Linked DNA regions of Homo sapiens. The protein of the gene in region 1 purifies or fractionates together with the protein of each later gene. This does not show direct contact. Each region holds a gene or a part of one and is shown in the gene's direction. Other genes may lie near its edges.

The links.
Region 2: the proteins of ZNF280A (region 1) and NUCB2 purify together in Homo sapiens (affinity purification with mass spectrometry; 2 studies listed by BioGRID and IntAct, with this or other methods). This does not show direct contact.

The regions. Positions count from the first base shown.
Region 1 is NC_000022.11:22,513,217-22,517,564, reverse strand, and holds the end of ZNF280A (zinc finger protein 280A), read left to right. Parts: intron 1-1,863; 5' UTR 1,864-1,934; coding exon 1,935-3,563; 3' UTR 3,564-3,829; downstream 3,830-4,348. UniProt on the Homo sapiens protein: May function as a transcription factor.
Region 2 is NC_000011.10:17,328,591-17,332,876, forward strand, and holds the end of NUCB2 (nucleobindin-2 isoform 1 preproprotein), read left to right. Parts: intron 1-1,536; coding exon 1,537-1,707; intron 1,708-2,311; coding exon 2,312-2,393; intron 2,394-2,821; coding exon 2,822-2,829; 3' UTR 2,830-3,621; downstream 3,622-4,286. UniProt on the Homo sapiens protein: Calcium-binding protein which may have a role in calcium homeostasis. Acts as a non-receptor guanine nucleotide exchange factor which binds to and activates guanine nucleotide-binding protein (G-protein) alpha subunit GNAI3.

The DNA.
Region 1 (4,348 bases):
TATTTGACAAAACTTTTGTTTCAATTTACACACACATACACACAGGTTTACCTTCTCCCTTGTACAACAGTATTAAATCATTTGGATTTGGATTTCATTAAATGCTTAGAGAATCTGGAATAATGGATTAGAGCCTCTGGTACACCTAAATGATCATATTAATAACAGCTACTATTTATTTAACAAAGATTTAGCATGCACAGTATGACAGACATTGCTCTATAAGCTGAGGAGTAAATGAAACACAACTCCCTGCCCTCGTGTGGCATACAGTTTAGTGGGTAAACACAGAAAAGAAACAAGTTATATTTTTAAATTTTTTGTAGAGATGGGTCTTGCTATGTTGCCCAGGCTGGTCTCGAGCTCCTGACCTCAAGCAATCCTTCCGCCTTGGCCTTACAAAGTGTTGGGATTACAGGTACGAGCCACTGCACCTGTCCCATTTTTTGTTGTTGTTTTAAGACACAGAGTCTTCCTTTCCTCTGTCACCCAGGCTGGATGCAGTGACATGATATATCTCACTGTAATCTCAAACTCCTGGGCTTGCAAGATATATTTTACATATTGTGTGGTAGGCAGTGATAAATGCTAAGTTGAAAAATAACATTGAGGGTTTGAACATATGAGTTAAGGAGGTTGTGATTTTTGATATTGTGGTCAGGTAAGCCTTGCTGAAGAGGAACCATGGGACTGAGGCAGACCAGGAGCCCAGATGGGGTTAATCTGGGGAAAGAGGCACGCAACGTCCGGGAACAACAAAAGTTCTGAAAAAGAAAAAGGCCTGCTGTGTTCCAGATTCACGGAGCTCAGGATGGCTGCATCAGAGCAACAGAGGAGTTAGCAAGGGCGATGATGACCTAAGGTTCCATGGGGAAATTTAAAGTTTGCTGGTATTTCCTATGAATGAAATGGAAAGTCATTGAAGACTTAAGAGCGAAATATACTTGCTCCCCTGTATATTTTAACAGGGGCATTGGGGCCACCATGGGGAGATCTGACAAAACTTTTAAGACTGGCAACTTCTGCAGTGATCCAGGGAGAGAACATGGTACCTTCCATCAGGGAGGTGGCAGTAGATGTGGAAGAGAGTAGTCAGATTCTGGATATCTTTAAAAGATAGAGCAGACTAGCTTTGCTAATTGATTGGCTGTAGTGTATGAGAGAAAGTCTGGCAAAGGATGACTCTGAAGTTTGTAGACTGAGCAACTGAGTTTACTGAGAAAAGGAACATTACAGGAACAGCAAAGGGTGTGTGTGTGTGTGTGTGCTGTGATTTGTGTGTGTGTGTGTTTGTGTGATGGGGTCTCATTTGGTTGCCCAGGCTGGAGTGCAGTGGCATGAACATAGCTTTGAAGTCCTGGGCTCAAGTGTTCCTCTTGGCTCAGCCTCCCAAGTAGCTGGGACCACAGGTGTGTACCACCATGCCAAGCTAATTTTTTTTAATTTTTAAATTTTTTTGTAGAGATGGGGTCTTGCTATGTTGCCCAGGCTAGGAGCAGAATGTTTTTGAGAGAAGTTTTGTTCAAGTTGGTTAGAAACCTTAGACATCTGAGAGAGTACCTGTGGGATGAGGAGGAGGTGAGTGAGGCATCTAGAGTGCAAAATTTAGAGGCAAGCACTCTGAGATGTTCCATCTGCACCTCCTGAAATCTTGCTTCCTTTGCCTCACAACTGCAGAAGACCAGGGGAGGAGAGACAGGTAAATTTGAAATTATTATGCCATTTAAAATGTTTCAAGCCTCATTTCTGACGTGTAAAATAGAGATGTTGATGGTTATCTCAGTGTTTTAAGGGAGGATACAATAAAGTAATGATTTTGTCTTTCGAAATAAATATTGACTATTGTCACATGGTTGCACTTAGGTGGCAATTTGTAAAAAGACAGCTCTGGAAGTTGAAGAGACCAGTGGCTTCAAGCAAAAAGTAAATTGAAAATGGGAGATATCTTTTTGTGTAAGAAAGTGGAATCACCAAAGAAGAATTTGAGAGAATCCAAACAAAGGGAGGAGGATGATGAAGATCCAGATCTGATCTATGTTGGGGTGGAGCATGTACATAGAGATGCTGAAGTTCTCTTTGTCGGGATGATTTCAAATTCAAAACCAGTCGTTTCAAACATTTTGAACAGAGTCACCCCAGGCTCAAATTCAAGAAGAAAGAAAGGCCACTTCCGTCAATATCCTGCTCACGTGTCGCAGCCTGCAAATCATGTGACCTCTATGGCAAAAGCCATCATGCCGGTTTCTCTGTCTGAGGGGCGATCGACAGATAGTCCTGTCACTATGAAGTCTTCATCTGAACCTGGTTATAAAATGAGCTCACCACAAGTTGTTTCTCCCAGTTCCTCAGACTCGCTCCCCCCAGGGACTCAGTGTCTAGTTGGAGCTATGGTCTCTGGAGGAGGCAGAAATGAGAGTTCTCCTGATTCAAAGCGACTTTCCACTTCAGATATAAACAGCAGAGATTCCAAAAGGGTTAAACTCAGGGATGGAATCCCAGGGGTACCTTCTTTAGCTGTGGTCCCTTCAGATATGTCTTCTACAATAAGCACAAATACACCCTCACAGGGGATCTGCAACTCATCAAACCATGTTCAGAATGGAGTAACATTTCCTTGGCCTGATGCTAATGGAAAGGCACATTTCAATCTTACAGATCCAGAGAGAGCAAGTGAGTCTGCCCTGGCAATGACAGACATTTCAAGTCTAGCAAGTCAAAACAAGACCTTTGATCCCAAGAAAGAAAATCCCATCGTGTTACTTAGCGACTTTTACTATGGACAGCATAAAGGAGATGGGCAGCCGGAACAGAAGACTCACACCACCTTTAAATGCCTCAGCTGCGTGAAAGTTCTAAAAAATATTAAGTTTATGAATCACATGAAGCATCATTTGGAATTTGAGAAGCAGAGGAACGACAGCTGGGAAGACCACACCACCTGCCAGCACTGCCACCGGCAGTTTCCCACTCCCTTCCAGCTACAGTGTCACATTGATAGTGTACACATCGCCATGGGGCCCTCTGCTGTCTGTAAAATCTGTGAATTGTCATTTGAAACAGATCAGGTCCTCTTACAACACATGAAGGACCATCATAAGCCTGGCGAAATGCCTTATGTGTGCCAGGTTTGCCATTACAGATCGTCGGTCTTTGCTGATGTGGAAACACATTTTAGAACGTGCCATGAAAACACAAAGAATTTGCTTTGTCTGTTTTGTCTCAAACTTTTCAAAACTGCAATACCATACATGAATCATTGTTGGAGGCACAGCAGAAGGAGGGTCCTTCAGTGTTCCAAGTGCCGGCTACAGTTTTTGACGTTGAAGGAGGAAATAGAGCACAAAACCAAGGACCATCAAACATTTAAAAAGCCGGAGCAACTGCAAGGGTTGCCTAGTGAAACAAAAGTTATTATTCAAACTTCAGTTCAGCCAGGATCAAGTGGTATGGCTTCCGTTATTGTTAGCAACACTGACCCTCAGTCTTCTCCTGTAAAAACTAAAAAGAAGACGGCTATGAACACTAGAGATTCCAGACTCCCTTGCAGCAAGGATTCTAGCTGAAAATATGTTCGACTGACTTCCAGGAGTTCCGAAAGGCAGAAGTGAGGCTAGGCCATATGTGCATTGTGGCTGTAGATGCTAGCAAGCAATGTCATCAACTGTCAGGTTGTTTTTTACAGTGACATCTCATCAGCTCCCTATTGTCAAGAAGTAGCTCCAAAGTCTTTGAGCCCTTTCCCAGTCAAATGCTCCCAACAGGGCATCCCTTATTCTGACCTCAGAGGTTTTTCTTGTTCATGAACTTTAAATAAATGGAATCACACAAAGATTCTTGTCTTTGGCTTTTTAAAATAAGTGAGATGGCTGGGTGTGATGGCTCATGCCTGTAATCCCAGCACTTTGGGAGACTGAGGTGGGTGGATCACTTGGGGTCAGAAGTTTGAGACCAGGCTGGCCAACATAGTGAAACCCCTTCTCTGCATAAAATAGAAAAATTAGCCAAGCGTGGTGGTGGGCGCCTGTAGTCCCAGCTACTCGGGAGGCTGAGGCAGGAGAATCGCTTGAACCTGGGAGGGGGGAGTTTGCACTGAGCTGAGATCGCGCCACTGCCCTCCAGCCTGGGTGACAGAGCATGACTGTCTCAAAATAAAGTAAAATGAAATAAAATAAGTGAGATGCATTTTTGCTGTGTGTAGCAGTAGCACATTCTTTTTCATTGCTGGGTAGAATTTTGTTGAGTGACTGTGGCAGTTTTGTATAAATTTATTTCACTGTTGATGGACTTTGAGGCTGATTCTTTGGCAATTTTGAATAAAGCTGCTATGAGCTTGTGCGTGTCTTTTGGT
Region 2 (4,286 bases), on another chromosome or scaffold:
CTCTGGTCCACATGGGGTTCTGCCAGCCACTGCTGATATTTACTGAAAGCCCAAGGGCTTTTCTGTCACCTTGCGGTAAATGCTGCCAGGCCTTTACCCTTCAGGGAAGTGGGCTCCCCTCTGGCCCAAGGCGAGTCCAGAAATGCTGTCCAAGAGCCAAGGCCTGGACTCAGGGACTCCAAAAGACTGCTTGTTGGTCTACCCCATTGTGGCTGAGCTGGTACCTAGGGTGCAAGACAAAAATCGCCTTTACTTTCCCTCTGCTTTCCTCAAACAGGGGTCTCTCGCCATAGCCACTACAGCTGGGAATGTGCTGGGTCACCCCGAAGCCAGCATGTCTCAGTCCAAGACCCACAGCATACTCCATGGGTCTTGCCGCTGATTATTCAGGGCCCAGGGGCTCTTTACTTAGCAAGTGATGAAGCCTGCCAGGACTGCTCCCTTAAGGCAGCAGTTTCCTTTTGGGCCAGCAGGGTATGTCTAGAAATGTCACCTGGGAGCTAGGGCCTGGAATCAGGTCCTCACAACTCTGCCTGGTGTCCTATCCTACTATGGCTTAGCTGGTATCCAAGATGCAAAACAAAGCCCTCTTTACTTTTTCCTCTCCTTTCCTCAAGAAAGGAGTCACTTTCATAGCCACAAGCTGCACTGCCTGAGGTTGGGGGAGGGGTAGCACAAGCGTTCCCTTAGCCTCACCAGCTGGTATCTCCCCTGGTCACCTGCTACCCTAGTTCACTGGCTCTAAGCCCAGCCTAGCACTAGGAGTTGCCTAGGAATTACAGTCCTCCTTTCCTAGACTGCCTTTCAAGTTTACCTAGGACCCCAGAGCACTTCAGCCCGCATGGTGAGGCCTGCCAGGAAATTCAGTGCCCATTGCTGGGATGGGTGATTCTCCTCTGGCTAGGGCTGCTTCAAATGCTCCTATGCATGGGCAGTGGTGGAGCCCAGCACAGCTTTATTCTCTGCTGTGACAGGGCAGCACTGAGTTCAATGTAAAGTCCCCCAGTCGCTATGCTCCCTCCCCAGAGGGCACAGACTCTCTGTGCTGCAGGTCTGCCACGAGGGAATGGGAGAGAGGTGGCATAGGTGATTCAAGACTGTCTCTTTTGCCCTTCTCAGTGTCTTTGCAGGTGATATGAAGTTGAAACCAGGTACTGTGAGTGCTCACCTGATGTTTGCTTCTTGTGCTTTTCTGTGTGCAGACAGCTGTTAAAATTTCATGTTTCAGTGAGGGTTGGGGGGAATGACAAATTTTATTTCTCTTCCCACGTTCTCTTTGCCTCTTCTACCCAGTTCTCACTCTTTGCCTTTAGTTGTCAATCCCAGAAGAGAATCTCTTGAGTTTTTCTTCCTGTTTTTCCTTTTGTTCAAATGAGTACATAAATATATATTACTTATTTCCCCTTCCTTCTTACCTCCAAAGGCGTAATCCTATAGATACTCTTTTATACTTTGCTAACCATAGAATTTTAAAGCTAAATCAGACTTTATTGTTGTAGTTTTGAGATTATTCTTTCCTCATTTTTTTTCTTTTAGACATTAGATCAGCAACAGTTCTTCACAGAGGAAGAACTAAAAGAATATGAAAATATTATTGCTTTACAAGAAAATGAACTTAAGAAGAAGGCAGATGAGCTTCAGAAACAAAAAGAAGAGCTACAACGTCAGCATGATCAACTGGAGGCTCAGAAGCTGGAATATCATCAGGTGGCATTTTGTCAAAAGATTATGGCATTAAAAAGATTTTAGGTGCTTTGTTAAAAGCCTGTGTTTTTGTAACATATTTCATTGTACTATATAGTACACTGCTATAGCTATACTATAGTATTTTAAATTTTAATACTTTAAAACTGTTTTGTGGAATATTAATCTAAATTTTATTTTATTTCATTTTATTTTATTTTGAGACAGCCTGTCTCCCAGGCTGGAGTATAGTGCTGTGATCATAGCTCACTGCAGCCTCAAACTCCTGGGCTCAAGTGATCCTCCCACCTCAGCCTCCCCAGTAGCTAGGACTACAGGTGCATGCCAGTGTTCCTGGCTAATGTTAATATTTTTTGTAGAGACCAGGTCTCATTGTGTTGCCGAGGCTGGTCTCGAACTCCTGGCCTTAAGTGATCTTCCCACCTGGGCCTCTGAAATTGTTGGGACTATAGGCGTGAGCCACTGCACCTAGTCAAATCTAAATCTTATAGTTTGAATATCTTTGTTTTAGAAAACAATTTTCATTTACTTTGTTGTGCTTTGTCAAAGGTCACACATATGATAGAAAATCAAGTTATACTTTTAACTTTCATTTTCCATTCACCAGGTCATACAGCAGATGGAACAAAAAAAATTACAACAAGGAATTCCTCCATCAGGGCCAGCTGGAGAATTGAAGTTTGAGCCACGTGTGTAATTTTGTTTGATTATTTATTTAGGAAAATAAATTATTTTATCAATTGAAATCCACATTTATTACAAATATAATTTCAAATCATTAAGATGTTATGTTATTTTTTGTGTATTTTTTGTGGTATTAGAGCAATTTAGATTATAGAAAAATGAAAATGCCTCCAAAAGTTTTATGTAGCAGCAAATTTTAAGTGCTGTATCATTTGTATAATTTGATAACCATATTTATGGTAAAATGATTTATTTCAACTTTATTTGTAATTCTTTCTAATTATATTAATCTTACCAGAGAATATGTTTTTTAAAATTGTGATCTATGATTAGCTAAGCATATTTTTTAAAACAAGTATATTTGTATATGAAGGAACATTTAGAATAAAGGAAGATACTTTTAAAATAAGAACTTTTTTCTTTTTTCCAACAGACATTTAAAGTCTGAAGTCCACCAGAACTTGGAAGAAAGCTGTTAACTCAACATCTATTTCATCTTTTTAGCTCCCTTCCTTTTTCTCTGCTCAATAAATATTTTAAAAGCATATTTGAAATAAAGGGAGATACTTTTTAAATGAAAACACTTTTTTTGGGACACAGATATTAAAGGATTGAAGTTTATCAGAACCAGGAAGAAAACAAACTCACTGTCTGCTCTCTGCTCTCACATTCACACGGCTCTTTTATTTATTTTTTTGTTCTCCTTTAATGATTTAATTAAGTGGCTTTATGCCATAATTTAGTGAAACTATTAGGAACTATTTAAGTGAGAAAACTCTGCCTCTTGCTTTTAAATTAGATTGCTCTCACTTACTCGTAAACATAGGTATTCTTTTATGGGTGCTTATCATTCCTTCTTTCAATAAATGTCTGTTTGATATTAACAATTCTGGAAAGGCCACAGTATTTCCCTGTGTTTCCTGGTAACGTTTTTCTAGTTTTGGCAACCTCAACTGCTAGAAATTCTTCACCTGAATCACTTTTGCTACCACTTCAGGTCATTTTTCATTCTTTTTTATTTTGCTCTATACTTTATCATTTAAGATTAGGTTATGTTACATATAACAGAAAAAACAAAGATAACAGTGGTTTAAACTAAATAGGAGTTTTTCTTCTTACATAAGTCTAGAAGTAGGTGGTGTCCAGGTTCCTATCTTTCTGCTCTGCTATCCTCAGTGCATGATTTTTATCCTCAGATTACCTCACTCTCACTGTTCAAGTTTGCTCCTGGAGGCAGTGGGGAAGGCAAGAAAACTGGACTTTCTCTGCTTGAGTTAGCTTCCCTGAGGCCATTTTCCAGAACCAGCAGCACCTGAACTTATGTTTCGACCAGAACTGGGTCACACTGATGGCCACACCTAGCTGCTAGGGAGGCTGAGAAGTCAATGTGGCAATGTGACCAGCTAAAAGTTGGATTCTTTTACTAAGGAAGAAGGGAAGAGGGAATGTTTGGTAGGCAACTTTGGATTTTAAACTCAGCCAGCCTTGTTGGCTACCTAAATTCTGTGTACCTTCTTCTTCCGAGAGAGAAAACACTCACCCCTCTCTCCCTGAAGAGAAACCACCAGAAATCCAGCCCATTATTGCATACTAGATGAAAGACCATGCTATCTGGAGACAGTCCCCTCCATCATGTTAGGGTGTGGCTCCTTGTGTTCTGGCCACCTACAAACTGAAAGACAAGTTTTCTGCCCTGAGAGCACCAGATGCATAATGCAAAGGTGCAGGAAAACTGACCTTTTAAATTTTTTAGAGACAGGGTCTTACTCTGTTGTCCAGTCTAGAGTACAGTGGTGTGATCATAGCTTACTGCAGCCTTGAACTTCTGGGCTCAAGTGATCCTTCCACCTCAGTCCCCCTAGTAGCTAGGACTACAGGCACATGCCACGAACGCCTGG